Regions from separate parts of the Homo sapiens genome. Here regions 1, 3 and 4 are each linked to region 2. The links come from fine-mapping of genetic effects on gene expression. A gene starts in region 2. Each other region holds a variant in brackets. All regions are shown on one strand. Distances are between the middles of the regions. Region 1 overlaps MGAT4A (alpha-1,3-mannosyl-glycoprotein 4-beta-N-acetylglucosaminyltransferase A). Region 2 holds the start of MGAT4A (alpha-1,3-mannosyl-glycoprotein 4-beta-N-acetylglucosaminyltransferase A). Region 3 overlaps INPP4A (inositol polyphosphate-4-phosphatase type I A). Region 4 overlaps LINC02611 (long intergenic non-protein coding RNA 2611).

Region 1 (8,141 bases), 67 kb before region 2:
CCTTTCACTTGATTCTCATTTTCTCTCTTGTCTGTTGCCATGTAAGACATGCCTTTCGCCTTCTGCCATGATTGTGAGGCCTTTCCAGCCATGTGGAACTGTGAGTCCATTTTTCTTTATAAATTACCCAGTCTTGGGTATGTCTTTATCAGCAGCATAAAAATGGACTAATACACCTACCTATCAATTTTAAATACAGCGATAACTTATAAAAATGCTCAATTGTTAAAAGACTCAATGATATATAAAATATAATCTATGTTATAAAGACTGTCAAAGCACTTAATACTTGAGAAAAACAAACAAAAAAGGTATAGCTTAATCCTGGAAATTGCAAAACCATCAAATTATAAAAAGTTTTTATAACAGGCTTTCTGGAAAACAATATACAAACATCGGTAGCATTTCTACATACTAACAATGAACTATCTGAAAAAGAAATCAAGAGAACAATCCCATTTAAAATAGCTACCAAAAAAATACTTAGGAAAAAATTTAACCAAGGAAGTGAAAGAACTAGACACCAAAAATTATAAAATGTTGATGAAATAATTTGAAGAACACACAAATAAATAGATATCTTTGCTCATGGATTGGAAGAATTAATATCATTTAAATGTCCATATTACCCAAAGTGATCTACAGATTCAATGTAATCCCTATCAAAAAATTTAATGACATTTTTCTCAGAAATGGGAAAAAAATCCTAAAATTCATATATAACCACACACACACACACACACGCACGCGCACACACACACACACACACACACACACACACACACACACAACAAATAGCCAAGGTAATCATGAGGAAAAACAATAAAGCTGGAGGCAACACACTTTATTATTTCAAACTATACTATGAAGCTATAATAATGTAAACAGTATGGTATTGATTTTTAAAAAACAGACACACTGGCCAATGGAACAGAATATAGAGCCTAGAAATGAACTCATGTATGTATGGTCAATTGATTTTCAGCAAAGGTGCCAAGAACACTCAATGAAAAAAGTTTCTTTAGTAAATGGTGCTGAGAAAACTGGATATCCACATACAGATGAATGAAAGTGGAACTTCAACTCACGTGAAATATACAAATAAACTCAAAATGGATTGAAAACAAAAGAAGACTCTAAAACTACCAGAAGAAAACATAAGGGAAAAACTACACGACATTGGCCTGGGCAATGGTTTTTTGGATATGACCCCAAAAGCTCAGGCAACAAGAACAAAAATAGACAAATAGGATCACATCTAACTAAAACTCTTCTACATGGCAAAGGAAATAATTAACAGCATGCCTGACAACCTATGGGTTAGGAGAAAATATCTGCATGCTGCACATCTGATAAACAGTTAATATCCAAAATATATAAGGAACTCAAACAGCTCAAGAGTAAGAAAAAACACTGAAAAAATAGGCAAAGGACCTGAACAGACATTTCCCAAAAGATGACATACAAATGGCCAACAGATATACGAAAAATCCTCAACACTGCTAATCATTAGGGAAATGCAAATTAAAACCACAATCAGATATCATCACATCTGTCAGGATGGCTAACTGTCAAAAAGACAAAAGATAACAAGTATTAGGAAGAATGTGGAGAAAAGAAACGGATGGATATATACACTGTATCCATACTGGATACATACATGGATCCACTGTATCCATATTATCAAGCTCTGAGTATAGGTTGGTAAATAAAGAAGATCTCTGTTTGTAGAACTTAAAACTGGTGAGAGAAGCAGTTCATAAGCAAACAAACAAAAATATGTACACATATGTATGTGTATATATAACTGAATATTGTGTTATAAAAATAGAATGCAATAATAGAGGAAAAACAGAGATGGCCTACTTAAACATTACATTCAGAGAAAATCTCTCTGAAGACTTGACATTTAAGCCTAAATTTGATACATATTTCTATTCAAATGTACAAAACTAAACAGAAAACATTAAAAGGGCTATTTTAAGTTCATTAATTGGAGCTTTGTCCTTAATAGCATGTTGATGCTATAGCAATGGTTCTCATTTTTTATTAGAACCCATTTAGTTAAAAACATGTTCATAATTTACCCATCTCTGATCACCTCCATGAACAGTCTCCCAGTCCAAGCCTCACCTCGATTATGGCAACAGCTTTCTAAGTAGTCTCCTTTCTTTTGCCCTTACCAAAGCAGACAGCAGGATCCTTTTTAAAAAGGCAAGTCATATTATTCTTGCCAAAAATGCATAGTCAAAATATAATCATGAGAAAATATCAGATAAATCCAAACTGAGACATTTTACAAAATAACTGACCAGTGCCCATCAAAAATGTCCAAGTTCATGAAAGACACAAACATGGACAGGAGGAAGCTAAGGCATGAGAACCGCTAACTGCAATGTGGTGTTCCATAGTGCATGCTGGAACAGAAAGGCGAACCCAGGCGGAAAAACAGGAAACTCAAATAAAGTCTGTAGTTTGGTTGAGTATTATATCAGTGTTAATTTCCTGGTTTTGATAACTATAATATGGCTACATATGTTGTTAACATCAGAGCAAGCTGAGTGAAGGAGATACCCTCTATAATTTCTGCAACTTTCTGTAAATCTAAAATTATTTCAGAACAAAAAGTCTTAACATATAATTTGAAATAGTTATATTTATGTAGAGGAGTAACAGGTAATTTTTCATTATATATTTATGTAATTGTTTTGAACAGTATGCATTTGTTTACTTCTCTAATAAGGAAATCATCAAGACCATTTTCATTTAAAAAGACATGGGGAACTCTAAAAAGTTAGGAATTAGTGGGCCAGAACTAGACCATGTCCTAAATCCTTTCCCATTCTGAAATTCTATACAATAATTAAGAAAATATTTACTCTAGGGTCTTATTCCTCATGATTTAAAAAGAACTTGCTCAAGATTTATTCTTTCTCTAAATCTTTTGAGGAGACTAAAATACAAGAAGTGTGGTATTTCTCATTCACATGATTTCTTAGGAGTACAGAGAAGGGATGGAGAGAATAAAAGAATGATAAAACCCCAGCTGAGCCTAAACCTTTTTCAGGTTTCAGGACTCCCAAAGATCATCAGTGCAAATCTCCAAATTTAAGTCTTAGAGCTAGAAATAGGCACACGTTCTTAAAGATCTACGGGTGTAACATCCTATTGACAACAAATATTACTATTCCTGGTTTGTAATTGCAGGACAGAAGTGAGTTCAATTTACATTAAACTACCAGATAGAATATATTACCTAAGCTTTACTCATCACATTTTTTAAAAAGCGTTTTTAAAAGCATATTCAAATATTCAATTAGAGTTTCAACTCTTATAGGCTATATTTGGTAAAAACATAACAACAATTAAATAATTACCTCTCCTATGAAGACTACTATAACACAGTCCAACTTCTCTTCAGGATACAGGTTATCAATAAGGGAATGAAGAGTTTCTATGAGGTAAGATTTAACTTCTCTCTTCACTGTGGGAATGCCCATGACTATTGAAACTGGAAAAAAAAATAGTAATTATATTAAAAAACTGTACAAGGACAATACAGAAAAACACTTCTATTTCAAAAGTATTATACCCTCTCAAATTGATAGGAATAACTGATGGATCAAAATATATTAAGTTTCAGGAAGAAAAATAAAGAATACAAGGGCATACCTGTAATACTGTAATTCATTTTCACATGGCTTAACCATAAGAAAAAAAGAACTGATAAAAATGAAAGACATTAAACTTCACACTAAAAAATGAATGGCTGCGAAGTATAAACAGCAAACTGTATTTTACAACTAAAACTTAAAAACACTAAACATATCTTAAAAACTAATGTCTTATCTCTCGACTTCAAGCATGTGACATGCCGAGAAGAGCACAA[C/T]ATCAGTTCTGTGGTTGTTCTTGCCAACAATGCATAACCTCAACTTAACCGTAAAGAAACATCAGAAAAATCCAAACTGGGGCAATGCTCCACAAAATAACAGTACTCTTTAAAGTGTCAAGGTCATGAAAGACAGAGTAATGAATGGTCCCCGATTGGAAAAGACTAAGGAACCACGACAATTAAGTGAAATATGGGATCTTGATTTGGATCCTGAAAGAGAAAAACAGCAACAATGAAACACATGACAAAATCGGAGTAAGAGCTAAGGTTAGTGAACAGTGTAGCATCAACGTTAACTTCCTGGTTTTTGATCGCTATACTATGGTCATGTAGGGACACTGGGTAAGGGCATATGAAAACTTTGTGACCAGGCACAGTGGTTCACGCCTGTAATCCCAGCACTTTGGGAGGTACAGGTGGTACACTGCTTGAGCTCAGGAGTTTCAGACCAGCCTGGCCAACATGGCGAAACCCGGTCTCTACTAAAAATACAAAAATTATCTGGGCATGGTGGCGCACACCTATAATCCCAGCTACTTGGGAGGTGGAGGCACAAGAATCGCCTGGGAGGCAGAGGTTGCAGTGAGCTGAGATTGTGCCCCTGCACTCCAGCCTGGGTGACAAAGCAAGATTCCATCTCAAAAAAAAAAAAAAAAAAAAAAAAAAAAAAAGAGAAAACTTTGTGTACTATTTGTGCAACATTTTTAAAGACTAAAATTACAGTCAATGTTCCTATAATGCTTGTTTTCAATGCAAATTTGTTTCTACATGATTAACATATTAGGGAAAAACTGGGGCATAACACATGAATTTCACATTAGCTTACGTGCAATTTGTCCTCTGAGACAAACACCAGGTGAACAACAGAAAATTGTACCCAGCTGAATTGAGTTCAGAAAATTAAACCGAACCATGTAGAAATACTGCATACAAAATGCACGCACCTCAAAATACCTACCAGCTGTCTCAGTTCACCACAACTATCAACCACACCCATCCACACTGGGTGTTGCAACCTTCCATCAGATTGCAAATAACCTACCTCACAGCCCTTCACAATAACTTACAAGCTGCAATCCTTCAGCAACCCACTTCAACAAGCAAATCTCAGGGCTTTTTCAAGATGGAATGCCACATTTATGTGTTTCTTAATCATTTAACTTGCGAAAAACTGTGCCACTATTATAATTAGGTTCTTATCCTTTTTTATAGTGTAACTGACAAAGTGTTTGAGTGTTGTGATCCTAACCCCCTTGCTCTCATTTTTTTGCACCATTTTCATACCACAGTGATTTTTAGGAACACTTATACTGCATTATAGAGGTATTTCAAAGTAAATTTTTAAAAATTATGCCTTAAAGTCTTAGTACGCTATGTATCAATACAGAAGTATTTTAAATATGGTAAAAACAACTTAGTCTTAATCATGCAACAATTTTTTGGAGATACTAAAAAATACTTATAATTCACAGAATTCTAATGCCAGGGGCTGGGTGTGGTGGCTCATGCCTGTAATCCCAGCACTTTGGGAGGCCGAGGCGGGTGGATCACGAGGTCAGGAGATCGAGACCATCCTGGCTAACACGGTGAAACCCTGTCTCTACTAAAAATACAAAAAATTAGCTGGGTGTGGTAGCGGGCGCCTGTAGTCCCAGCTACTCAGGAGGCTGAGGCAGGAGAATTGCTTAAATCCAGGAGGCGGAGGTTGCAGTGAGTCAAGATCGCGCCACTGCACACCAGCCTGGGCAACACAGCAAGACTCCATCTCATCTCAAAAAAAAAAAAAAAAAGAATTCTAATGCCAGAAGGGAGCGTAAAGACCATGGATCTACCACCATGATTCTTGAGGTAAGAATACTAAGATGCGAAAGGTTTAAGGGACTGCCCCAAGGTCTCGTGACACAACCCTCTCTTCCATTTTAGGCAAGAAGAGTTCTCAAGCACTCAAAAAGATATTTGCTCTATGAGACTCCGTCCCCCCAAAAAAAGATATTTGCTCTATTTGTTTTGCACATATTTACTGCAAGGCACTATTCTAGGTGTTAAGCATACAATGGTAAATAACATAGGTAAGGTCCCTGCCCTCATGGAACGCACATTCTAGAAAGGGGAAAAAGATTTAAAATATATGTATCTTACAGGCTGCTATGTATAGGTTGGTACTGTCAGAGTGATGAATGGGGAGGGGGTACCCCTGTAAGTCGTGTGGTCACGGAAGGCCTCTCTGATATCAGCTGAGCTGGTAACCATGAGAAAGAGCTGATGAAGAATACTGCAGAAGAGGAAGCAACAAGGCCCTGAAGCCAGAATGATTTTGACATAGTCAAGAAATACCAAGAGCAGGTTGGATCGAAAGCAGAATAAGCCCAGATTGAGAAAATCAGTCAGGGGTCACATTGCATATAACAAAGTTTGTTTTAATGCTGAGTGCAAGAGAAAGCCATTGTAAGGTTGTAAGCAGGGGAATGACATTATCCAATTTGTAATTTTAAGAGATTACCAAATTTCACAAAAAGTAAAAGCACTTTGGAAGAGTGGTTAGGAAGTTAATGTACTAACTGAAGGAAAAGATGGTGGTTTGAATGAGGCTGTAGGGTGTTTGAAGAGGTGGAGATGAGTGGATGATGGAGACCCTTGCAAATAGGGCTTCAGCTGGCAGACAAGAGAAGGGGAGGAATCAAGGGTGACTTGAGTAACTGGACGGGGGCAACTTTCACTCAGAACAACACACTTGAGGAGAGGGCCTCCAATCCAGATTTCTCTTCTGACCATGTTACTCTGAGATCCCAAAAGACAGGATGAGTTACAATGGAAGCAAAATTCCATAGAATAATCTACCTCAGAATTTAAGGCCGGGTGTGGTGGCTGATGCCTTTAATCCCAGCACTTCAGGAGGCTGAGGCGGAAGGATCGCTTGAGCCCAGGAGTTCGAGACCAGCCTGAGCAACTTGGCAAGACCTGGTATCTACAAAAAATAAAACACTTAGCTGGGCATGGTGGCGCATGCCTGTAGTCCTAGCTACTTGGGAGGCTGGGGTGGGAGGATCACTTGAGCCTGGGAGGTAGAGGCTGCAGTGAGCTGTGATCACACCACTGTACTCCAGCCTGGGCGACAGAGCAAGACCCTGTCTCAAAAAAAAAAAAAATTACCAGCGTAACAACTAGGATGAGGAGCATTCCTAGAAAATGCTAACTCATGGAGTACAAAGACTTCACTATGATGAAAGCAAAGCCCATGGTGATCCACAGTGTGCAAACAAGAATGGCATAAAGTCACAATGCAAATTCTCTATCCCTACCATACTCTCGAGGGTTTTTGGTTTCCGTTTTGCTTTGCTAAAGTTTAGATGGCACGTGATATGGTTTGGCTGTGTCCCCACCCAAATCTCATCTTGAATTCCTACGTGTGGTGGGAGGGACCCAGTGGGAGGTAATTGAATCATGGGGGCAAATCTTTCCTGTGCTGTTCTCGTGATAGTGAATAAGTCTTACAAGATCTGATGGTTTTAAAAAGAGGAGTTCCCCTGCACAAGCTTGCTCTCTGCCTGCTGCCATCCACATAAGATGTGACTTGCTCCTCCTTGCCTTCTGCCATGATTGTGAGGCCTCCCTAGCCACATGGAACTGTAAGTCCAATTAAACCTCTTTCTTTTGTAAATTGCCCAGTCTCAGGTATGTCTTTATCAGCAGCATGAAAATAGACTAATACAGTAAATTGGTACCAGGAGAGTGGGGCACTGCCGAAAAGATACCTGAAAACGTGGAAGTGAATTTGGAACTGGGTTAACAGGCAGAGGCTGGAACAGTTTGGAGGGCTCAGAAGGCAGGAAAATATAGGAAACTTTGGAGTTCCCTAGAGACTTGTTGAATGGCTTTGACCAAAATGCTGATAATGATATGGACAATGAAATCTAGGCTAAGGTGGTCTCAGATGGAGATGAGGAACTTGTTAGGCACTGGAGTAAAGGTGATTCTTGTTGTGTTTTAGCAAAGAGACTGGCAGCATTTTGCCCCTGCCCTAGAGATTTGTGGAACTTTGAACTTGAGAGAGATGATTTATGGTATCTGGCAGAAGAAATTTCTAAGCAGCAAAGCATTCAAGAGGTGACTTGGGTGCTGTTAAAGGCATTCAGTTTTTGTTGTTGTTGTTGTTGTTGTTGTTGTTGTTGTTGTTTTGAGACAGAGTTTCGATCTTGTGGCCCAGGCTGGAGTGCAATGGCATGATTTCGGCTCACTGGAACCTCCACCT
Region 2 (8,141 bases):
TCCCTACATCGAAACTACTCATTTAACATACTGGAATTATATGGTCCTTCTCCTCCTGGAAAAAAATACAAAACAGCTTCAAACTATATTCCCTCCTCATTGGTTTTGTTTTGTCTGTAAAAAGAAAGTTATGGTGACTGATTTTAAAGGGAAAAGTGGAGCTCACAGATTCCAAGATGAGAACTCTAATGATCACACAATGGTTCCTGAGTAACATAATCTTCACTCTCTCCAGTTTTCCTATTGCACAATAATAGGAAATTTTTTTAATAAGAAAATTGACAGAATACAATATATAAGGGTCAAAAGACCTGGACCCTTGACCCAGCTCTGTCATTACTTACATGATTTGGGGCATGCCACTTATCTAGGTCTCAAGGTTTCATTCACAAAATGAGGTAACAATCTGTCCTGTGTCCTCTTTCACATATTGTCATAAATTATTAAAAGGTTACAGTTATAACTGCTGTTTATCACTGTCATAAAATAAATGTCGTTTTTCCAGTGACTAACCCACTCCCAGGGTGTAAACTGGAACTATTTAAGCATTTAGAAAATGCAGCAATCCAGCCAGGATACTGTACACCTTAGGCTCTATCACTCTGCATTGCTTTAAATCAAGAAATCTGGGAAATCACCACTGATCGAACAAAGCTGTTGGGAAAAGGGAAAGAAATGAAGTCTTAGAAGTACTTAAGCACAGCATTCAGCATATAATAGGTTCTCAAAAAATGTCAACTGTACTAAAAACCAAACTTTTTTGGTTAATTGAACAACAACAAAACCAGCCAGCTACTGGTTCCAGTCCACTCTATGCATGGTCAGTCTCAATCCCTGGAGGCACGCCAGGCCCTCCAAGATGTGAACAGATTCCTGGTAGCCTCAGGAGGTGCCACAGGATGCACCTGGTAATATACTGACACTGTAGTGGGGGAGTTAATATACCTCGAAAAATGGCCAGCAGTTCCAAGGGAAAATTCTCTCTGGGGAAGAGCACAACCGATTCAAGCAGCCATTTGCAGGCAATTCAGAAATTGCCACCACCACTGCTTCTTAACACTGAACACTACTAGAAATTCCCCCTAGTAAAGAAAGATCACAGGGGCATAGTACTAATAATGACAGCCACTACAACTTATGAAATGTTTCCTATGTGCCTGATCCACCACATGGTTTAAATCTTCACAAAATCGTTCCTATGAGGCAGGCATTATTAACCCTGTTCTACACACAAGGAAATGAATCCAGAGAAAGAACTCGAATTTGTTTGTCTCCAAAGTCCAAGCTCTTAGCTGCTACACTTTCCCTCTCAAATGAGGCCTCCTGCACCTGGCAATATGAAGAGAAGTTCCAGGGATACTCCAAGTATCAGGTAAAACTGCAGAATTATACCCAACTGTAAGTGTAAATTAAAAAAATAAATTATATAACACACACTGATCTACTAAGGAGTAAGTTGCAAAATTCATGGAAATTTTCAAAGTGTATGTTTATACAACTTTAAACAAATCTCCACTTCCTGTAGCTTTTGGCTAATACCTCACCACAACCCTCCACCAAACTATGCCTGTTAACCCTCAGACAGCAGCTCTACCTTCCACATAATATTCTAGAAGCACCTAACCTCTTTTACTACCTGAACACAAAGAGATCTAAAAATATTCTCATGCAGAAGTTATCATTGTTCTCTAAGATTGAACTTATTCACCTTCTACAGTTAAGACAAGTTAACATCAAACATGCCCACGTCTACAGTTTAGAATTAAAATCTTCACAGTGGCCAGGTGTGGTGGCTCATGCCTGTAATCCTAGCACTTTGGGAGGCTGAGGCAGGCAGATTACCCGAGGTCAGGAGTTCAAGGCCAGCCTGGCCAACATGACGAAACCCTGTCTCTATTAAAAATACAAAAATTAGCCAGGAGTGGTGGCAGGTGCCTGTAATCCCAGCTTACTCGGGAGGCTGAGGCAGGAGAATTACTTGAACCTGGGAGGCAGAGGTTGCAGTGAGCCGAGATCACACCACTGCACTCCAGCCTGGGTGACAGAGACTCAGTTTGAAAAAAAAAAAAAACTTCATAGCAAGACTGCTCTAATTGTCTTAAATCAATAAGCACCCAATAATGAATTCTGATTATAAAAACACGGGTGATAATTCTATGAATTATATAACTTGGAACATTAATCCCGGTGTGGCATTATATTAAAATACTTATAACTTTCAGCTGCTATCTACTTAGCCCTATTTTACTTGAGAAAGAATTTTGTTCTAGTAAAAGATCTAAAAAGCATACAGGTTATTAGAGTAAGCACTCAATTCATAATAACGGGGAGGTAGAGCGCACATCATATAGTTAAGGATATTTTAAAAGTTTTACTAAATACAAATAAAGCTTGTAAAAACATTCCGTAGAAATGCATAGAGACAAGTAAATGAACTCTAAAACCAAAGTAAACTATTGATATACTACCCCTAATATATGAAAAAAAAAAAATACTGGATCCAGTAAGTTATGAAACTCTGAAGATACTTACAATAAATTCTACTAGCAAATAAGCCCTGAAATTTTGCAAGAAAAATATGCGTGTTTTACTCAGTAAGAATGTAGTCATACATTTTTAATTAGGGTTTCCCAGCTAATAAGTTTAACTGCACGGCACAAGTGAAGAAACTCTTCGGACAAGAGTAAAACCAAGGATCTACTCACTCTTCAATTATGAGACATAATTCACAGGCTGGCTTGTAAGACACAGGTGACCCACATTTTTATTAGTGTCCACATTTGCAAAAATTTTAATCTAGCCCCTTAATATTCTCGGAGACTATAATCTAACACGTTTGAATCTTTAACAACAACAAAAAAAGGTAGTGGCTAAAATTGCTAGTCATTTCTCCACCCTCCCAAAGGTGAATGGAACTTTCAACTCTAGACATCAGACTGTTTTGTTAGCAATCCTTTAAGGGCTTCAGTCTTCATTTTATTATTGGATACAAAACCTTTACTTATTTTAAAGTGTTCTCTGAAATACTCAATATAGTCCACGGCTGAGAACACTTTGCCGAACGTTTGGCATCTTCCTTAATCAGCATCCCACAGACAGGGTAGAGGTGACTTAAGAATGAAAGGCACAATAATCCCTGATATCTGGAATCAATAAAATCCATGACGTAAGCCTATATAACTTTACACACCACAATTGTGGCAAAATTCATTTATTTGCCATTTATAAACGGGTCAGTAGTTTTCTTTAATACAGCTTACGTAATGTCATCGCCCAGTGCGTTTTCGGGTTTACACGTGTGGGTTAAAGAAATCTATGTCAAGATAACCTGTTCATCAAACTGTTTTTTAAACATTCAGAAAAAGAAACATAAACCACAAAACGCATATTTTTATTCTAAATTTACAGTCTACGTTCCAACGAACGACTGTCATTATCTTTTATCAAATAATCTGTCCAACAGCAAAAGCACAACAGCAAAATACGTGGAAAGCATTCAAAGCATACATTGTGCCTGCTTCTATTTTCCAATGCGGAATGTAGGCAATGAAACCGCTCCAGAGAAACACACTGTTGCGAGGAATAAAGGCGGGTGTGCAAGTGGCTCGACTGCCAGCTCAGAAAAGCTCGCCTCCGAGATGTCACCTGGCACACTTGGTGGAGTCACCGAGACCCAGCCTCAGGGTCCTACTGCAGCTTCCTCATTACGGAGAGAGCTGAGGCCTGGGGAAACGGGGGCTGCTCTTTCACGCGGGCCCCGCAGCCCTTCACTTTGTGTGAAAATTCCCTGCGAAGGCTGCACGGCCGGTCCCCTCGGGAGCAGCCCCTGCCCCTGCGCCTCGGACCGTCCGGCCCCGCCCACCTGCCCCGCGGCCCCCGCGAAAGCGCCGACTCCCGCGCAGCCCCCGGGTCCCACAGGCAGCTGTCCCTCCCCCTCCGCACCCCCCGGATCAGCACTTTGCTCCACTTTCCCCCAAAGTCGCCGAGCCCCGCCACGCCGGGGAGCGCCAGGAACGCACCAGGCGCCGAGCCGGCCGCAGAGAGGGCGCGCGACCCCGAGGGGTGCGCGGTGCGGGGCAGGGACGCTGGGAGGACGGCCCGGCCCGCGCCCCGCCGCCCGCCCCCGAGGCCCAGCCGCTCCCGGAGCCGGCCCCGCGCCCAGAGGCGCCAACAGCTCCCCCGCACAGAGCTCCGGCCGGGCCGCGGCGCAGTAGGCTCCTTTACCAGCAGGTGGATCTCCCGCAGCCCGGGGCCGCCAGCCCGGCCGCCGGCGCCGCCCCCAACTCCCGCGCCCTCCGCGCAGCCGCCCCGCGCCCCCTCCCGCCCCCGCGCGCCGCCGCTGCCGCCGCGAGCCCCTCACCCGCCGCTGGCGTCGCCGTGCTCCCGCGGCTGCCGGCGGAGCTGCTGTAGCCGCCGCCGCCGCTGCCGCCGCCGCTGCGGGCCGCCCCGCCCGCCCCGCCGGCTCCGCCCCCGCCGCTGGAGCGCCCGCCCCGCCCCGCCCCGCCGGGCCGCCCCGACCCCGCCAGCCATTGGCCGGCCCCGCGGGCCCCGCGCCCCGCGCCCCGCGCCCCACCAGTGGCCCGCGCGACTGTCACTTAGGGGCGCCGCCACGCAGCCTGCGGAGCGTTCGGGAGGCTGGCCCGGCTCATCGGTGTCACGGCGAGGTCCGGAGCGGAGCCGCGGTCTCGGGTCCCAGCTCTGGGCGCCGGCCTGCTCCCCGCCGCCCCGCTGCCACATCTGGCTGAGATCCTCCCGGCGCGTGCAGGGACCGCTCCGGCGGCCAACAAAGGCCCGGGCGAGCCCTCGGCCTGCGCCTCGGCGCGCGACCCGACCACCCGGGGCTGCCCCAGCTCCCAGGCGCCTGCCTGCCTCGACCCGGCCCCTTCCCAGCGGCGCGCCCCGCTCCGGGCCGCCCAAACTGGGCGGCCTCCCCGGGGACAGGTCCCGGGCCCAGCCCCACAGGAGCTCCCGAGGCCCCGCGGACGGTCGCGACAGCCCCAACTTCCCGGTGAGAACCCCGCGAATCGGCCAGAAGGGCTGATTTCAGCAACTGGGAAGGAGAAAAACAACTAGGGTTTCAACGCACATCGTTGGGTGCTAATGCCCCTGATTTTCCACTATGCCCCGTTTTCTTGAACCCCATGTCCTTATCTGTCGCCGTTTCACAAGGTTAGAGGTTAACTTCAAAGGCAAAAAACTGACTCGTTTGTAGAAAGCCTGGGTGGTCTGTCCCTGTTTTTCATAGTATCCATAGGACTTGTGCTAACAGTAACTACCCCTGGGTACGTCCTCTTTTGAATACTTAACTGTATAGCAGGCAACCGTATAGCAGGCATGGGTGTTAGATCGTTTATTGCATATCTCATGTTTTAAATTTATTCCCCATTTTTCATAAGAGGAAACTAGCTGAGAGGTGAAAGGGCTTGCCCAAGGTCACACAGCTGGTAATGGTTCAAAAACAAGGGATGTGTTAACTTTATTGCCGCAATAATCCTTACAGCAATCCTACCGAGTAACCTGTAAGGGAATTGAGGGGCCAAAGATCAAGGAGGCAGCCTTGTTCCTGCCAAACTCCCAAAGTAATAAGTAGATTCTTTTCAGAAAACAGTAATTTCAATAATCGAAAACTCTTAAGAGGCATCAATCAGAACAGGGTCCCCTCCCCACCTCCGATAAATTCCATTATTTTTATCTCAAGATAAGAATAATTAATAATCAGCTAGAACATGCATGGAGTTATCAGCCTTCCCATGTTGAGGTTTCTCCATGACGGCTAATTTAAAACTTCAGGAAGAGACACGTAACATCCCTGCTCCCATAGTCTCTTACTAGTTTAGGGGAACCATACCAAAAGATCTGTCCACTGCCCAGCACTGTGGACACAACTTGGGGGATCACAGCCATGATATCCAATGACAGCTCTTCCCTCTACTTTGAGTGTGTTTTCTCTCTACTTCCGGTTTGGCTGTGTCCCCACCCAAATATCATCTTGAATTGTAAATCCCACAATTCCTGTGTGGTGGGAGGAACCTGGTGGGAGGTAATTGAATCATGGGGGAGGGTCTTTCCCATGCTGTTCTCGTGATAGTGAATAAGTCTCACGAAATCTGATGGTTTTAAAAAAGGGAGTTTTGCTGCACAAACTCTCTTTGCCTGCCACCATCCATGTAAGAAGTGACTTGCTCCTCCTTGCCTTCCACCATGATTGTGAGGCCTCCCCTGCCATGTGGAACTGTAACTCCATTGAACCTCTTTTGTCCGTTGCCCAGTCTTGGGTATGTCTTTATCAGCAGCATGAAAACGGACGAATACATTGGGGACCTGAAAGCCAGGTTTCCTGTATTCTATGACAAAGCCATTGCCAAGTAGCAAGCTGGCAATTTGATTCATGACCAGATGTAAACAGAGGTAAAGACTGAGACCATTCCAAGGTAAAGCTTTTAATACATTGTTGGATATATCCTGCCTAAAATATCTCCTAGGAATAGATGATTCTAGGCTTTGCTATTACAGTGCTCTTAATGACAGACAAGCAAACTACTTCTTGCAGAGGAAGAAAGTCCTGCCATTTGATAACATCATGGAGAATGCCCCCAAGCCATTTTCATGAATTACCCAAAAGACCAAATGGAACAGGAGCTATTATCCCTATTTTATTCACGAAGAAACTGAGGCCCTGAGAAATTAAGACATTTGACAGATACAAACAGTAATTTAGGCAATTAGTAAATGTTTGAATCAGAGTTCAAATCCAGGTCTGTTTGATTCCAGAGCCCCTACATCACCCCTCCAGACTATCTCTCTGCTCACATCTTCAGCAAGTTACAAAATTTTGTTGAGTGGATGAATATTTTTACATATATTTCCCAGCTGGGCACAGTGGCTCATGCCCATAATCCCAGCACTTTGGGAGGCAGAGGTAGGAGGATTGCTTGAGCCCAGGAGTTCGAGACCGGCCGGGGAAACAGAGAGAGACCCATGTCTTTAAAAAAATAAAAATTAAAAATTAGCCTGGTGTGCATGCATCAGTAGTCCCAGCTACTGGGAAGGCTGAGGCATGAGGATCATTTGAGCCCAGGAGTTCCAGGCTGCAATGAAATATGATCATGCCACTGCACTACAGCCTGGGTGACAGAGTGAGACCCTGTCTCTCTCTCTCTCTCTCTCTCTCTCTCTCTCTCTCTCTCTCTCTCAAAAGAAAGAAAAAAAAAAGCCAGGTGTGGTGGCTCACTCCTGTAATCCCAGCACTTTGGGAGGCTGAGGCGGGCAGATCACCTGAGGTTCAGGAGTTCAAGACCAGTCTGACCAACAGTGTGAAACCCTGTCTCTATTAAAAATACAAAAATTAGCTGGGCATGGTTGTGCGTGCCTATAATCCCAGCTACTTGGGAGGCTGAGGCAGGAGAATCGCTTGAACTCAGGAGGCAGAGGTCACAGTGAGCCAAGATCGCGCCATTGCACTCCAGCCTGGGCAACAAGAGTGAAACTCCATCAAAAAAAAAAAAAAGATGTTTCTCTTCACCTTCTCCAGTTTTTTCTCTTAGTGAAGGAAGGAAATGAAAGCATTTACAGACATTCTATAAGCAGAGGCATATGTCAGAGGAGAAAGGAATAGGGGGAAGGACAAACTTCAGTTATAGACTCCACCGGCTTATTCAGATAAAAAGCGGAATTTCCCCTGCACTCTGGGTAGTGGAGGAAGCACAGCAGAAGACAAAAAGTGTACAGGAAAAACACAACTGCTTTCACTTGGAGGCTTTTTTGATACTTCGTTGCTGCTTCAACTGGCAGCAGAAGGGCAGGTTTTGGAAAATAGGGTTACACTTATCTCAAACCATATACATTGTAGCTCAGGAAAGTCTGGATTTCAGTGAGTTGTCCCAAGAAACTGGAATGCCATAGAATATATTATTCCAAGGTATAGGGTATAATTGGTTGATGATTCATGTTAACTTAGCAGAGTTTATGATCCTGGATTTTCCAACTAAGTCCATAGTATCTGTTAATAATCAAAGACAATCCATCCAAACCCCACTGAATCCCATTCCATATCTTTTTCTCTTTTTAATATTGTTGATGATGATTCTCCTCCTCTATCACTTCCTTTTTATTTATTCTCTACTTCTACAGTTTCTGTTTCT
Region 3 (8,000 bases), 160 kb before region 2:
TCCAGGTGTGCAGGGGTAAGAATTGAACACAGTTGCACACAAGGCTTGGCAAGGGCAGAGGAGTCTCTGACTTGACTTTATACCCAGGTCAAGAGAAGGGAGATCACAGAGAACCTTTCTGGGTGTCCTTCCTCTCCGGGTGGAGGTGCTACAGGGCTGTGGAAGGAGATGGGCCTCTGGGGACAGAGCATTTTCTGGCCTCGTCATGACTTGCAGAAGCTTCTTTGTTGTTTTCCTCCGAAGGCATTGTCTTGAGTATTTCTGTTTAGGGTCCCCAACAGGTTCAGGAGACCAGGCATGTCTTGGAGGTACCGGAGTAGAACTGGTGTTTGAGGTTGCTGGAAAGAGCTGGGGCTAGAGGGCTAGAGGGCTAGAGACTGGGTTGGTTCCAGACAGAGCTGGAAGATGAGGTGGAGATGGGGGAGTGGGAGGACTGCAGTGGTTAGGGGCCAGGTGACTTGTTAAATTGCCAGAACCTAATTCTTAAAATCTCTCTCTCATTGTGATGACCCCTTCGCTTGTGCCCCAGGTGAATGGAGTGAGGCCCTTTACCCGCTGCTGACCACTCTCACCGACTGCGTGGCCATGATGAGTGACAAGGCCAAGAAGGCCATGGTATTCCTGCTCATGCAGGACAGCGCGCCCACCATAGCCACCTACCTGAGCCTGCAGTACCGCCGTGACGTGGTCTTCTGCCAGACGGTAGGCCCCGGGAGCACCCCGAGGGAGACCACGGGCACCTCTCAGCTCAGAAAAGACAGGCTTAGGAAGCCCTTCCCTCTCACTTCACTTGTAAAAGACCCCAGATGGCCATATTTCCTCCTGGTGGTGCTTTAAAGGTTATTTAATAGAGAGGTCTACATTTCAACACAGTCAGGAGAACTACCTTGGCAGCCCATGCTTGCTTCTCCCAAGGAACTGGCACCTGCAGAGTCTGCCGATTCTGCACCCAGGAGATAGTGAGGGCATGCATGGGTGGCACAGGCTTCTTTGCTGCGTTTTTTTTTTTTTTTTTTTTTACTGCACAGAGGTTGAGTGAGGGCAACACAGGTATTTGCTGTCAGTGCAAACATTGCTCGTATAACAGTAGGTGCCTTAGCTCTGCAGCTTGTTGCAGGACTCTCTTATTGTTGAGAGAAGTGAAGCCTTGAAATGAATGTAACAAGTTTAATAGTTGCCAGTAATCAAATTAGTAAAGTGAACAGTGATTTGGGGTTGGGCTGGTTCTCTACAGGTTCCCTCACCCATCCTGGAGAGTCCTGTTTCATCCCATAGAAAATCTCCCACTGGGGAAACTTTGAGTGACCATGTTGTCTCTCACTTCTGTTTTTTGCTGGGGCTAACTCAGTTTCCAGCCAGGGGTGGCATGGCTCTATGAGTAGATAGACCCTTTCACTGTGAGTAATTAATAATGGGCTTCCAGAAGTTCCAGCCTAGGAATAAAGCCAGGTATAGGTCAGGTCAGAAGCTGGGCCAAAAACCAAACCCACTTGGTGAGCGACAGGAATAGCAAGCCCACTGTTGGGCGTCTTCCCATGGCCAGGGCATGCCCCACCTGGGCTTCTCAAGGGATGGGAGGTGCCACTGAAGCCCCTTTGAGCAGTGGCAGCAGAGGAAGGGGGCGGTGGGGGGCTGGGCATGATCTGACTGCCATTTGGTGAGCAGGCACCTGACCCTGAACCTCTTCACCCCACGCTCCCACAGCTGACCGCCCTCATCTGCGGCTTCATCATTAAGCTGAGGAACTGCCTGCATGACGACGGCTTCCTGCGCCAGCTCTACACCATCGGGCTGCTGGCCCAGTTCGAGAGCCTGCTGAGCACCTACGGTGAGGCGCCCGGGCCAGGATCGGGAGCCCCACTTGCGTGTGTGGTTTCCATCCTTTCTTGCTAGGCACTTTTCTCACTATACCAGTAATGCGTGCTTATTGAAATAAATCCAAAATATATAACAGCAGACCAGATGGCAGACCTGGCAGTTACACACGCACACGCCTTGGTTTGTTGTTGTTGCTGGTTGAGGATGGATGCTAATTACTTAACCAGTAACTTCCTGTTGGACTTTGGGTTGTTCCTGAAACACCAGTGCAGCAGTGACATCTGTGCATGAGGCACTTGTGGGCCTGTTTCTGCAGCTACTGAATGACTGGAAGGAGAGTTGCTGGGTCAGAGGGTAGGAATATTTTTAAATTTAATAGATATTTCCAAATTGCCCTCTAAAAAGGCTCTCTTCTTCCTACCCTTGTTTATTATTTATTTATTCTGAGAAGGTGATAGAAAGCATTTGTTAATCATTGGAAATTGAGGACATCGAATAGATATCAAGCCCTGTGTAATGGGAGGGTCTGGCCACAGCAAAGCTGCTTTAGCATCTCTCATTTCGTGTTTCAAGAGCTGGCTTTGCTTTCTGAGTTTATGTATTTGTTTCCCTCCCTACTATCTGGTGCTTGCCCAAGAAATAGTGGGAAGGGATGGCGCGTGTTTCCACCAGATGCATGTTTTGATGTGGCTGTGGGATTTCAGAGGCATTGTTGACTCACAGAGGAGTGAGTTGCAGGGGAAGAGGCTCAGAGACTCCCCCTCCACCAGAGCCACACCTGCACCCCTCCTGTCACAGCCAGGCCTGGGCTTGGCTGCCTTCTGCTGAGACTGGGGAGAGTAGCAGGGCCCTCTGCCTGACAGCCCTGCCCCTCTCTCATGTCCAGGGGAGGAGCTGGCAATGCTGGAGGACATGAGCCTTGGGATCATGGACTTGAGGAACGTGACCTTCAAAGTCACTCAGGCCACTTCCAGCGCCTCCGCAGACATGCTGCCCGTCATCACAGGAAATCGGTAGAGTGTTGGTTTAAAATTCTCTGAGCCAGAGAGCGGTTTTCATTTTTGTTTATCTCAGGGAAGGTACTCTTCTGAATTTTTTATCCTATTTCATTTTGTTAAATGCTCTGATTACAGCCCCCTAGGTTAGTGCCACTCCCTTAAAGGTCTGTGGTTGGCAGTTTGGCCATCACTAAGCCAGAGGGCCAGCCTGGGCACTGCAGCCTGCTCGGTGGCCCTCTGGCCTCACACTGCTCTCCCTCTCTCCACCTTTCTCCAGCGACGGGTTTAACGTGCGGGTCCCTCTGCCGGGCCCGCTGTTTGACGCCTTGCCCCGGGAGATCCAGAGTGGCATGCTGCTGCGAGTGCAGCCCGTCCTCTTCAACGTGGGCATCAATGAGCAGCAGACACTGGCCGAGAGGTGCGTGCCGGCTCCTCGGGGCTGCGGGGGTGTGGTGGCCCTGGAGATGATGCAGAAAACGTACTTACCCCTCTTCAGGCTCTAAGTGCTGGACAGACTTTGTCATCCTTCCTTCCTTTGGCCAACATTTTCATCATGGCCGTGCACCTCACTGTCTTTGGTGCTAGGGACACAGAGTGACCCAGAGGTGGTCTCTGTCCTCAGGGACTCAGCTGGTGGGAGAGAGAGAGACATGGATGCAATGATGAAGACAGATACAGGGCATTGTGGGATCCGGAGTAGGGCACCCAGCAAGGTCTAGGGGGTCTGTAAAGGCTTCTTGGAGTTGCAGGGGATGGGGCTTTGAATTGTGAATAGGAGTTGGATGATGAGGTGGAGGGGAGACATGTCAGATTAAGAAGACTGAAGAAAGGCCTGGCGAGGAGAAACAGCATGGAGTTCAGGGGCACCAGGTTCCAGGCAGGGATTGGCAGGTAAGGGTAGACAGGCTCTGTGTGCCAGGCTGAGACTCATGCCTGAACCTAAAGGCAACTGCCCTCCAGGGTCACTTGCCACACTGCAGAGGGGAGTTGTGTGTGCCTGTGTGTGCACGTGTGCCTGTGTGCGCACATGTGTGTGAGGAGATAGGGTAGATTGGGTATATGTACCCTTTACTGGCCTTCCACTAGTACATGAGAATGATTCCTGTGTTGTCATTTATCTTCATGTGATATGTGTAGAATAGTCTAAACAGAGATCTTCAAGTACTTGCTGTGAAGGAAATTTGGTTTCCAGAACAATATGCCGTGTTCCTGCTGGGCCTTCTGATGTCCAACCCCAGTGGTTGATGTCCATTGACGCCTAGGTGTAGGGTCACACCAACTTAGGAAATATGGTATCATTGCTGGGAGACACTGAAGAACTCTCAGTGGGGCAGGACACAATCAGATTTACATTTAAAGTAGGTCGTTTCGCTGGCACGTGCCGGGAGGAGATGAAGGGGACAAGTGTGAGGAGGAGGCTGCTGGGAGGAGTCCAGGCCAGAGGTGGGAACCTGGATCAGGGCCAGGGGAGTGTTGGTGTTCTGCAGAGGGGTAGGCTGGGGAACTGTTAAAGTGGTCAGTGGAAGGGTTTGGTCTTCAGTGGGGTTGGGGCTGGGGCTGAGTGGGAGGAGAGTACACCAGACAGACCCACCCACTGAGCTCATAAACTGGCAGGAGAGTCGTGTCCAGAGGCAGGTGGTGAGCTGGGTTTGGACTGAGGGCACCAGCCCAGGAAGCAAAGCCCCAAAGGTGTGAGCAGAGCTGGAGGCGCCTATGTCAGGGAGAGGCGCAGCCTCACTGGAGCCCCAGCAGGGAGGTGGCCCAGG[G/A]GAGGGAAAATGATGGTGCCTGCATCCAGTAGCTGCGGATCCCACAGACTTGCAGGAGCAGTTTCTAGAGAGGGCTGAGCCAGAGCCAGGTGCATTGAATAGAGGGGAGGGTGGAGGATGCAACACTGAGGACAGAGAGGACTTGCAAAGGGCAGGTTCTTGACTTTGTTTCTTTATTGGCCCTGAGGTCACTGGTGAGCTGGGCTTGTTTATAAGCTGAGGGAAGAGCCCTCAGAGGGGAGGCCACAGGCCCAGAGTCAGGGATGGCCCCCAAGGGAGCAGGCGTCTAGAGAAAAGGCCATTGTGGACACCAGGGGTGGATGGGCTGGGACCCGTAGGAGGGAATCCTGCCCTCTGAGGGATGCTCTCGGGCCACAGAGAAGCTGATGCTCGGAAGGCCCCTCAGCAGGGATGTGTGAGACTGCACTGGGGCCCAGGACCTGGACTTCAGAGCCTGCATTTCCTAATGATCACCTTGTGCCTTCCTTGCAGGTGGCATTTTATGGCTTTGTTTCTTAGGCATTTGGCACATGCTCCTTGTAGCACACTGAGTGTGATCAGGGTGAACCTGCACGATGACGAAAGGGCAAGGGCTTCATGTCAGTCCCGGAGGGGCTGGCAGTCAGGTGTGTTCATTCTGCACACAGAGAGTGACTTCAGATTGGAGTACAGGGCTGCATCCTCACCTCTCAGCCATACCTCACTGCCGTCCCCCCTCCTAAGTGCCTCAGATGGGAGGAGACCAGGGACTCTGAGCCAAATGGCTGTGAGGGGGGATCCTGTGCTGCACAGGATCTGTACCACATCATGTTCTGGTCATCTCTCAGGCACGCCTGTAACAGTGATACATGATTCCTGCCAATGGAATGCATTTAAACTGATCAGCAACACTGTAGAAATGCCTTTATGCTCGGAAGAGGGAGAGTGGCTTAGAATTTAGATATGCATAGTAAATGTTTGAGAGAATCAGCATAGTTAGCTTCCATGCAGTTGTGTTCATGTTAGAAGAAAGTGACATTAGCCAACTAATGGCATCCCCTATAACCTCCCAAGGTTTGGCGATACGTCTTTACAAGAAGTCATCAACGTGGAGAGTTTGGTGCGGTTAAATTCCTACTTTGAGCAGTTTAAGGAAGTTTTGCCTGAGGATTGTAAGTATTTCTTCAGTCATGGTAGGTTTCACTTACTCGTCTTTTTATCAGTTTAGATGTCTGAGCTCTGGCTTGCCCTGCCTCTGTGAGTGCATGCCTGTGCATGTGTGTGCACTGTTCCCTTTCTCCCTAAACACACACACGCAGAGAGAGAGAGAGAAGCTTCCCTTGGCTGTGGCCCTCATTCATCTCTTTGCTGTCGATTCTCTACTAGCCTATGTGACATGGCTCCTTCCCATGCTGTCGTAGTCACTGACACAAGATGTGTTTGGTGGCATGCATTGTGCACCTCCTGGTAGGACTTGGGGGAATCACAGAGGCAGGACCCACCCTCGGCCAGGTGAGCGGCCCACTCACTTCCCTTTGTGGTGCTTAGAGAGGAAGATGCGGGGCCAACATTGCTGGGTGTTTGGGAGCAAGGTGGCCCCATCTCGGCATCTCCTGGAGGCAGTGGAGATGGTGACAGTAATCTCTCTGCGTGTCCTGCAGTGAAGATGCTGCAGCTAGGGCTCTGCAGCCACAGAACTAAGGGAGGAACCGAGAGCTGCACAGCACTGTCTACGAGAATTCCCTCTTGAGTTCAACCCAGTGAATATTCCCTGAGGACCTGCTGTGTGTAAAGTGCTAGAGGATCCGATGGCGAATGAGGGGTGGACCCTACCTTGGAGGGAAAGCTGGTCCCAGAGTGCCGGCCTCTCTGTGCAGGCGCTGCCACAGCCACTAGGGGGCGCCACGCGTCAGAAGGTATCATCCCCTCTGTGTTACACTAGTGTCCTCTGATGGGGGTTTCCAAAGAGGGAACCCACATCGGCTGGGCTTTGCATTGGGCAGGCTTCATCTGCATCCTGTTGGACGGTACGGTAGACCTTAGAGTTTAGAGATAGTCAAACAGTACTGCTGGTGAACCTTCACAGGTCACGGATGTGCCAGACACTGGGCTGGGCTCTACATACGTTTCCACGCTGAATCCACAACAGCCCTATGGGTCGGTGATAGGATCCATGTCCAGATGAAGAAAGGGGTGCCTGGCTCTGAAGCCCATGTGCTTGGATTGTGGCTGAAGCCGTCCTGCTAGGAGAGAGTGATGCAGAACACTCCGGGGCTGGGCCAAGAAGTCGTGGCTTCAGCAGGGAAGCAGTGGGAAAAAAGACGCCTCTTCACAGGTTCATCTAGCAAGAGTGTGCGGTTGGATTGGAAGAGGGGAGGCAAGCCGCTGATGGCCAGAGTGAGGCTGTGACACTTCAGATGAGATGTTGTTTCACTCTGACTCCAGCCTGGTAGTGACAGTGAGCGTGGAGAGAGGGATGAGGCGTTAGGGGGGTTTGGGCTGAGGATGCACTCCTCAGCGGCCACGTGCAGCTGGCGCTGGGGAGGTGAGGGCTGTGTCTGCTGGGAGAGCTGACAGACCTGGCTCTGGGCAAGGACGCTGGAGTTGCCGGCAACAGCTGGGGCCGTCCCGCTGATGAGAGAGGCGCAGGGCTACAGGGGACCGACAGCGAGTGCAGCACTGGCCCCAGCTGAGCTGATGACATGGGCAAATGACTTGTGGGGAGTGCAGATGTGGAGCCACAGAGCAGAGCCCTTTGGTGGTTGAGGCCACTGAGTGACAAGACGAGAAGGGGCTGGAACAGCATCTGGAGGGGCCCCTGCTCTGGGGGACAGCGAGGAAGAAGGGACTCAACAGAAGGCGAGAGAGAGCATCACAGGCTAGCAGGAAGAAGGCAGGAGCCAGGAGGGTGTGGGGCGCTGCCGGACACTGGATGTGTGGACAAGGAGCTGCTGGTGATCTCTCCCATACAGTCTCACTGTGGTGAGGGCTGGGCCAGGGATCAAGGGGTGATGAAATGGTGCTGCCCTGGAATGGACCACTTTGTCCCAAAGACTGTCAGCAACTTGAGGGATGGGGCTGTGGGCAGGTGGGACACACCCTGGAGCTGCAGGGGCCATGGGAGTGCTCAAAGGTCCGAGGGAAGGAGAACACACAGGGCTGGAAGATGCAAGAGGACACCAGAGTCACAGACCAGGCCCTGGAGTGGGCAGGCGGAGGGTGCCCTTGCAGGGAGGGAAGGAGGGAGGAGAGAAGGTAGGGACATGAATGGAGGAAATATGCTCAGGTTGGGCAGCCTCAGTCTCCCCAGTAAAACAGGTGTTCTTGTCCTGCTCAACATGAGAGAGGTGAGCACAGAACCGGGGCCTTGAGGGGAGTGGAGGTGACTGGCAGAGATGCAGTTGGAGCCAGAGAGCCTGGAAAAATACAGATGCCTGGG
Region 4 (8,141 bases), 28 kb after region 2:
AGTGACGGGGCCTGGGACCTTCTGCCACAACTCCCATTGGACAACTAGCCATATCTCCGAAGGAGCCCTGGGTAACCCTCGACGTGGCAGGTAAGACTGTTAACTTGCTTTTGGACATGGGGGCTGCTTGCTCTGTTTTGACCCATTATAATGGGATTCTGTCACCCCAAAACTGTATGGTCACGGGGATAGATGGACAAGCCCATAAATGCCATTTTACCTATCCCTTAACAACTTTGGTTTTCTCACATGCCTTTCTTATCATACCTGAATGCTTCACCCCCTTGTTGGGAAGGGATTGTTAACTGAATTGCAAACAGTGGTATCTTTTGGAAATCAAAAGACAGACTAGGGGTTGTTCCTTCTCCTTTCCTTTGTTAAGGGAGGAGAGTCAAAGGGGCTTACCTACTTTACCTGTTGAAGTAACCTCCCAAGTAAATCCTATAGTATGGGTCACTAAAGTTACAGGCAAAATGCTAAACCTTCCCCCAGTTTGCATCCAACTTAAGCCTGGTGTCCCACACCCATGGAAGAGACAATACCCCTTAAAGCCAGAGACATAAAGAGGGATCCAACCACTAATTGCTAAGTTTTTGCAGTTTGGGTTGTTAAGGCCCTGTGAATCTCCTTGTCATACACCAATCTTGCCAGTTAAAAAGCCAAATGGAGACTACAGATTTGTTCAAGATCTTTGAGCTGTCAATGAGACTATCATTCCTATACATACTACAGTGCCCAATCCCTACACGCTGTTAGCCCAGGGACCTTTTTTTTTGCATTCCAGTACACCCTGATTCACAATTCATCTTTACTTTTGAAAAGACTGATACTGATAGCCATTTAGTTTCTTAATTAACTTGGACAGTTCTTCCCCAGGGGTCTAGGGACAACCCTAATCTGTTTAAAAATGCACTACCTAGAGAATTTAAAATGGTACAATTAAGTAAAAACACTATTACCCAATAGGTGAGTGACTTGTTGGTTACTAGCTCAACTAAAAGAAACTTGGACAAAAATACCATTCAGTTACTAAACTTTCTGGGAACTAGTAAGTACAGGGTCTCACCACACAAAGCCCAGATTTCAACTCAAGAGATTAAATACTCAGAATAAGTTCCAACCCCTGACAATAACACCAGAATGAAGGGAAACTATCTTGGACATTCCAAAACCCCAAACTAGAAAACACCTGTGGACTTTCCTAGGGATGGCAGGATTCTGCTCTTTATGGGTAGTTGGATTTGGGCATATAGGCAAGCCTTTTGATGAGACTCTGAAAGGAGCAGATGTAGGTCCTTTTGAATGGGATAGTAATTGTGAACAGGTTTTTAAAACTCTCAAGGAGAAATTGGGATCAACCCCAGCCCTAGGGATCCCTAATTTTGATAAGCCGCTTTTCCTTTATATGACTGAAAAACAAAGCACTGCCCTAGGTGTCTTTGTCCAGAAATTGGGAGCTATTCCCTGACCAGTGACATATTTTTCTAAACGACTAGACCATGTCACTTCAAGATGGCCTGGATACCTCAGGGCAGTTGCAGCAACTGCCTTAGTAGATGAAACAATAAACTGGCTTTAAGACAACATCTGGAGGTTTTAACCCCACACCAAGTACAAGGAGTCCTAGAAACTAAAAGACACCAGTGGATGACAGGGGGACTCATTAAAATATCAGGCTTTATTGCTAGACACTCCTGATGTAACTCTTAAAGTATGGCATACTTTAAATCTAGCTACTCACTTGCCTGAACCTACAGGCACCCTAGATCATTCTCGTATACAAGTTATGGAGCAAATTTACTCCATGGAAAATCTCGGCTCACTGCAACCTCTGCCTCTCAGGTTCAAGCAAGTCTCCTGCTTCAGCCTCCCGAGTAGCTGGGATTACAGGCATGTGCCACCATGCCCAGCTAATTTTGTATTTTTAATAGAGACTGGGTTTCACCATGTTGGTTAGGCTGGTCTTGAACTCCTGACCTCAGGTGATCCACCCACCTCGGCCTCCCAAAATGCTGGGATTACAGGTGCGAGCCACCACACCCGGCCCATCACATTCTTTAAAAAAGCAGAGAAATGAGTGACACATTCTTGAAAACTTTCCATTACGAATGGATGAAACCTAAGATTAGTTATTTAAGGTTTCTCAGATGGGAAACCTAGCTTCCTAGGGTGGCTTATTCTTGGAGACTCCAGACAGTGAATGTTTTACTAGGCTGTGTGTTCACTCCATTTGTTATTTTCTTAATTTGTTCATTTTTAAAGGCAAGTGATGCTATCAAACTTCATTCTATATGTCTATACTACTGATTTCTGTTGACTTACCCCTCACTTCCCCCTATCTTCAATGGCTAGTTACTGTTTTAACCCCATACTGGGTTGTCTCTTTTATTCATTTACTCTTGCACCCTCCTCTATCATCACTGATGAAAATTTAAGCTATATTGGCCCAAGATCAGCCTTTGAAAACATTCTTTGTGTGTTCTCTCATGCCAACATCAGGACCGTATTTTTCTGGTTGTTGAGTGATTTATGTGAGATGAGTTTAAACCTCTTGCTGAAGTTAAGATGTATCATGTAAATGACAACCTTTGATTTATCAAACTTAGTAATTAAAGTTTCCTAATGCAACAGGATGTGCTCTTCCCATAGCCATACTGAAGAGTACTTCATGTTTATTCTTTGGAAGGGTTAAGCAGTGAGACAGCCACGGGTGCTCGGATCAGACATTTTCGTTTGTGAGGGTTGGAGAATGATTTTCTCCTGTTTCTTATCATTAGCTACCTTGCGAACTCTCCTAAAGCTACTGAAATAATGGCAATGGTTTAGACGCCCTGCATCTCCAGGGCTTGTGGTTTGTGCACATCTCTCGTCTAAATAAATATAAATATTTTCTCTGTTTCTATTTTATCTTCCCCAAATTCCTGGTTCTGGTGTTGCAACTTCATAAAACCCAGAGCCCACATGGCAGTACCAGCTGCTAGCCCAGGTCAAACTTGGGGAGGGCAGCTGCTTTCCAGGTGCACCCTGTGTGATCCTGACTTCCTCCTGACAGTGCCAGGAACGCCCGTGAACTGCTTTCGTGGTTGCATGTGAAAACTTTTGCATTTCTAGAAATCTCTTCTCCAGCAGGCTGGGCTATTGGCTGCTGTGGGATTGCTAGCTGGTCTAGACCCAGCCCCTCCTTCAGGCTTTTCCCACCCGCTGCTCCTCTCCTGGCCTTGGGCCTCATGCCCGAGTCTCCAGCCGCCACCTTGCTGTTGCTTTACTGTTTCTCCGTGATGCTGTTTCTAGCTAGTTATAATTGGCAGGCAACCAGAAGCCTCATCTGCCAAGGGCGGAAGTCATGTCTGGAACAGGTTTCCCTCTTAAGACTGTGGGCTAACCCAGCATCTTGCCACTTTGTGTGGGACTTCCTCATTCTTAGTACATAACTGTGTTTGACCCTCAGGGATGACTAGTGTTTCCTGGCCTCGGTACAGTTGACTTCTCCAGAAACTATCTGGCTCACTCTCAATTTCCTGGAGCCGTATATCCTAATTACAAAAATGGGAAAATCATACCTAGAGTCCCATAGAAAGAGAAATAGAACCCCCATATGTGCCTACAATTCATCCATTCTCAATTCATTATTTTAAAAATGTAGCTGATGGTTTGGTTCTGAGACCAGACGGTACAAAAATTACCATTCACTCATAGTAGGGCCATCAACTACCATAATCTTTTGGAAAAGTAATTTAGCAATATAAGTCAGGACCACTTAAAAAACCCTTAGAGTTGCTCATTCCACTCTTAGGAACTTATCCTAAAGACGTCAACAGATGTGGACCAAAATTTGTGTGCAAGAATATTATGTAGAATTTCTGTATTGAGAAAATTTGGAGACAGCCTAGCTGTCCAAAAATAG[G/C]ACTAAATAAAACATGGTACAGCAATATAGTGAAATATTATTATATAACCATTAAGTTATGTTCTTCAACAGTATTTTTAAAATAAGGAAAATTCCAACGTTTTTGAGGAGTCTTTTTAAAAACGAGAGTACAGACCAGGCACAGTGGTACACACTTACAATCCCAGCACTCTGGGAGGCCAAGGCAAGTGGATCACTTGAGGCCAGGAGCTGGAGACCAGCCTGGGCAACACAGTGAGACCCTGTCTCTACAAAAAATACAAAAAATTAACCAGGTGTGTTGGTGCACACCTGTGGTCCCAGCTACTTGGGAGGCTGAGGTGGGAGGATTGCTTGAGCCCAGGAGTTTGAGGCTGTAGTGAGCTGTGATGCCACCACTGCACTCCAGCCTGGGTGACAGAGTGAGATCCTGTCTCAAAATAAAATAGAATGTAAAAAGAGCACATGCATGAAAAGTGGAACACAACACTTTAGGTAATAATATTATCCCAATCACATAGGTGTGCTTAGTGCAAACAAAAACATTCATAGTATTTATCTCTGGTGGTAGAATTACTGGCGATTTAAAAAAAAATACATTTTTTTCTGAATATTCCAAGTGTTCTACAATGAATGTGTTACTTTCCTAATCAGAAAAACAACTGTTATTTGTTAAAAGAAATTAGACCACAAAAAAAGCAAAAACACAAAGGCCTTGCCTATTTTTTTTCCCCCTGTTTTACCACATCCTTTCTCACTGATGTAGAAAAAAAAGGAACTAATATTTATGGTGCCAAGAATGTAAATCCGTCCTGTAACTTGGAAGGTACATGTGTATCTTTCCCATTTTAAAGGTAATAAAGTCACCAAAGAAAAGGGTGGCAAAAATAAAATGTGAATGCAGGCCCATTGGCCCCAAAGGCATCTTCTTCTCACGTCTACACTGTCCCACTCGTGATAGTTTTAAGTTGCATGTTATTCTGTACCTGGCCTTTTTAATTTTATCAAAATAAACTTCCCTTTGGTAACAAAGATATTCTACTTTCTGTAAAATTTTCATTCCAGCTAACTTTTGTTAGCTAAGATTTTGTCTAAGGAGTACCAATGCTTTGAATAATCATACTAAAAATATAGCCTAATTGGTCTGAATGAAATTGAACAACTGCAATTGTTCAAACAAGCTGGATGCAGCATTTTTGCACGTGCCTAGTCATTTTGCTACAGTAGTCATTGCAAACGAGTGCCTGAGACACAAATCTCAGAGAAGTCATGGTTTTGAGGGATCAACTTGGAGAAGCTGCCATCTCCTCCGTCCCTCTGAGAACATCCTCCTAGCTGGTGGCATTAGCATTCTGCCTGCCCAGGTGAAGGCCTGGCAGGTTGTAGGAAGCCTCCCGTGGGAGCTGACCAGACCCTGAATACCCCTTCTGCATCACCCCAAATTGAATATGGTTATGCAAACAGCCTTTAACAATCCTTGTCATCTGGATCTGAGATACAACTTTAATGATTTCACATATGTCATCTTGCCACTTGCCTGCACCCATAGATCCCCTGCTGTTGTGTGACAGTGACCACTGTGCCGTGCTTGTCTGTTACCCTATGACCGAGGAGGAACTGAGAAGACATATCATTCCTCAACATTATGATAAGGAAATGGGGACCAGAGGAGTTAAGCAATTTGCCCAAGGCCATGCAGCTTGAAGTGCATGTGTCAGAGCTGCTGCCTGTTTTTGTGTTTTGTTTTGTTTTTTTTTATTGTTGTCTGTTTTTTTTTTGAGACAGAGTTTCCCTCTTGTCTCCCAGGCTGGAGTGCAATGGTGCAACCTCGGCTCACTGCAACTCTGCCTCCTGAGGTTCAAGCAGTTCTCCTGCCTCAGCCTCCCGAGTAGCTGGGATTACAGGCGCCTGCCACCACTCCTGGCTAATATTTGTATTTTTAACAGGGACAGGATTTCACCCTGTTGGGCAGGGTGGTCTCGAACTCTTGACCTCATATGATCTGCCCGCCTCGGCCTCCCAAAGTGCTGGGATTACAGGCATGAGCCACCACGCCTGGCGGCTTTTGAGCACTTACATTGTGGCTGTCTGAAATGAGATGTGTTCTAAGAGTGAATTATGCCCTGGACTTCCAAGACGTGTTTTGAAAAAATATGCATAATATCTCATCAGTAATTTTTATATCAATGGCATATTTAAATGTTCATTTTGGATATACTGAGTTAAATAAAATATACCATTAAATTTAATTTCAGTCTCTTTTTTATTTTTCTCTTTTTTAATGTGGTTACTAGGAAATCTTAAATTACAAATGTGGCTTGCATTGAATTTCTGTTAGCAGCAATGTCTGAGAACTGTTTTTCTCATCTGTTAAATGATGTTAACAATGAGAACACCCATAAAGTTCCCAAGACAGTAAGTGTCCTATACATGTTTATGTTCTTCCCCCATCACTTTTTCTCAGCAGAACACTCAAGCCTCCTGACTTTCATTTCATGATCCAGATACATTCAAAACCATTGTTCCATTTCCATCCAGATTTCTCCTGAGTAAGGGCTTTTTTTTTTCAGTCATGTGTCACTTGAAATCTTATGATTACAGTTTGTAAATAGCAAGTCAGAAGTTGGAAACTCAGCCAAGATTCTGAAACTGCCTTGCCTAAAGCAGAGGCATCAGAGAATGCACCTATTCATAAACCCGTCCCAGGCGCTTGTGAAAAGATACACTGACATTTAGGCAGGAAATGCACACAAGGTAATTCATTCCTATTGAAGCTCACTGAGCATCAATCTGGTTGCGATATGAATTATTCATGTCCCCCCCCACCCCGCCGCCGCTGCCACGCCAGCCTCATGTTCAAGGCTGATGTCAGTGCAGGACCCATAGCTCCTCTCTCTAGGCCCTTTCCCGGGCAGCTGTGCACAGATCAACACCCCGTCCTAGAGCCAGCTCTCATTCTCTCTGTGGTGAGGGCTCACCTACACGGACCCAGAGGCTGCGATCGACACCTGATGGGCCACTACAATTCAATTTTCTTGTCCATCTGCTAGAAGACAGATGAATTCATCCAACAGCCAGCCCAGGACTCCAGAGGAAACAACTTGAGATAATTTATGAATTGATTTATGCCACTTCTCTTTCCACAAAGAATGTATGGTGGCTGCATAATATGCCTTTTGTTGAACTTACCAAATCGTTCTCTCATTTCATGTTGTGGACGTCCTAGTAGGGAGTGATAAATGCATATGCTATAAGGCCCAAACAGTTATGCTGATGGGGAGCAAGGAGCAAGCGACAGGGAGTGGTGGAGACTGTGTCCAACGGAAGAGCACCTGACCCACCTGCAGGGGCAGCCGCTGCCCATCCAAGCTGGTCGTTGCCTGTGATGATGCTCTTGGTGTTGCAAATCCTCTGATTTGTTACAAAAGGTCAGATTCCCAGATTTTAATTTGGAGATCTCCTAATTTTTGAAGTGTGGGGCTGAATAAACCTGCCTATTGGTCCAATTCAGCCAGCCAGTTGATAGTCCCTGATCTTGTTTGTTTGCTTGTATAAATGGCAGGCTTTCATGCCAAGGATTCTAACTTCATGTTCTTTTTTATTCCCTCTACCCTTCATCCCTCCTTCCACAGTACATAGCATTTATACCAATTATGATTTTCAGAATTAGACACCAATTTACCATCCTCATAGTTGCTCCGGATGCATCTTTTTTGTTATTTCCTTTTGTGTCCTCCTCCTTTTTTCTCGAAGTTCTCCAGACTCTGAGAGAGGAGGGGAAGCGAGAACAGGAGTCGATAATGGCCCTTTTCCAGCCACACACCCTCATCTGTAAGAAAATGTGGCTGAGTCTCCCTCTCCACGCTTTATCTTCTGTGTTGCCGAAGCATTGCCAGAATGTCAGGGCTCAGGAGAAAAGAGGGGAAGGATGCCAGATGAGGGTCTGGAAGGTCTCTCCTTTGTTGTAAGGCAGCAGTGGAGCAGTTAAAGGCATGAGGGACCTGCCTCCATACATCCTCTGCCAGGCGTGACTGAACTCCCACCCGCCTCCCCATGTGCCTCCCAACGGTGGGACACTTTCTTTTCTGGGGCTTGCCACTGCCTCCTAATGATCTCCCCCATTCAACTAGATACTTTGTCTTTGATGACAAGCCCTGGGGTCCCAAAGAAACCTGGGCTATATGCACAAGTAACCAGAATCCGCGAGTCAAATTCAGTTTCAGTAATTGGCTATTTGAGTCTAAGGGGTAGTTTGTTT

What was found. PIP is the estimated chance that this variant, and not a neighbour inherited with it, causes the effect.
Region 1: its variant is the best candidate, but not a certain one, in a credible set for the expression of MGAT4A in whole blood (TOPMed, PIP 0.85).
Region 3: its variant is the best candidate, but not a certain one, in a credible set for the expression of MGAT4A in whole blood (TOPMed, PIP 0.89).
Region 4: its variant is the best candidate, but not a certain one, in a credible set for the expression of MGAT4A in whole blood (INTERVAL, PIP 0.73).

Annotation. Positions count from the first base shown.
Region 1 is chr2:98,659,669-98,667,809 of GRCh38, forward strand. It overlaps MGAT4A (alpha-1,3-mannosyl-glycoprotein 4-beta-N-acetylglucosaminyltransferase A), which reads right to left. Exons shown (of 16, transcript NM_012214.3): 5 at 3,378-3,511. Among named protein-coding and RNA genes, the nearest start is that of UNC50, 55 kb to the left of the region's middle. The variant C/T (reference allele first, on the strand shown) is at 3,890.
Region 2 is chr2:98,726,688-98,734,828 of GRCh38, forward strand. MGAT4A (alpha-1,3-mannosyl-glycoprotein 4-beta-N-acetylglucosaminyltransferase A) reads right to left here and starts at 4,445. Exons shown (of 16, transcript NM_012214.3): 1 at 4,361-4,445. LOC107985922 (a long non-coding RNA gene) reads left to right here and starts at 4,594. Exons shown (of 2, transcript XR_007087150.1): 1 at 4,594-5,008. RefSeq lists silencers at 4,453-4,782, 4,803-4,992, 5,099-5,393.
Region 3 is chr2:98,562,936-98,570,935 of GRCh38, forward strand. It overlaps INPP4A (inositol polyphosphate-4-phosphatase type I A), which reads left to right. Exons shown (of 25, transcript NM_001134225.2): 18 at 530-702; 19 at 1,705-1,828; 20 at 2,705-2,831; 21 at 3,094-3,234; 22 at 5,636-5,733. Among named protein-coding and RNA genes, the nearest start is that of COA5, 42 kb to the right of the region's middle. The variant G/A (reference allele first, on the strand shown) is at 4,583.
Region 4 is chr2:98,754,932-98,763,072 of GRCh38, forward strand. LINC02611 (long intergenic non-protein coding RNA 2611) reads right to left here. Exons shown (of 4, transcript NR_126337.1): 4 at 6,132-7,647. Among named protein-coding and RNA genes, the nearest start is that of LINC02611, 13 kb to the right of the region's middle. The variant G/C (reference allele first, on the strand shown) is at 3,905.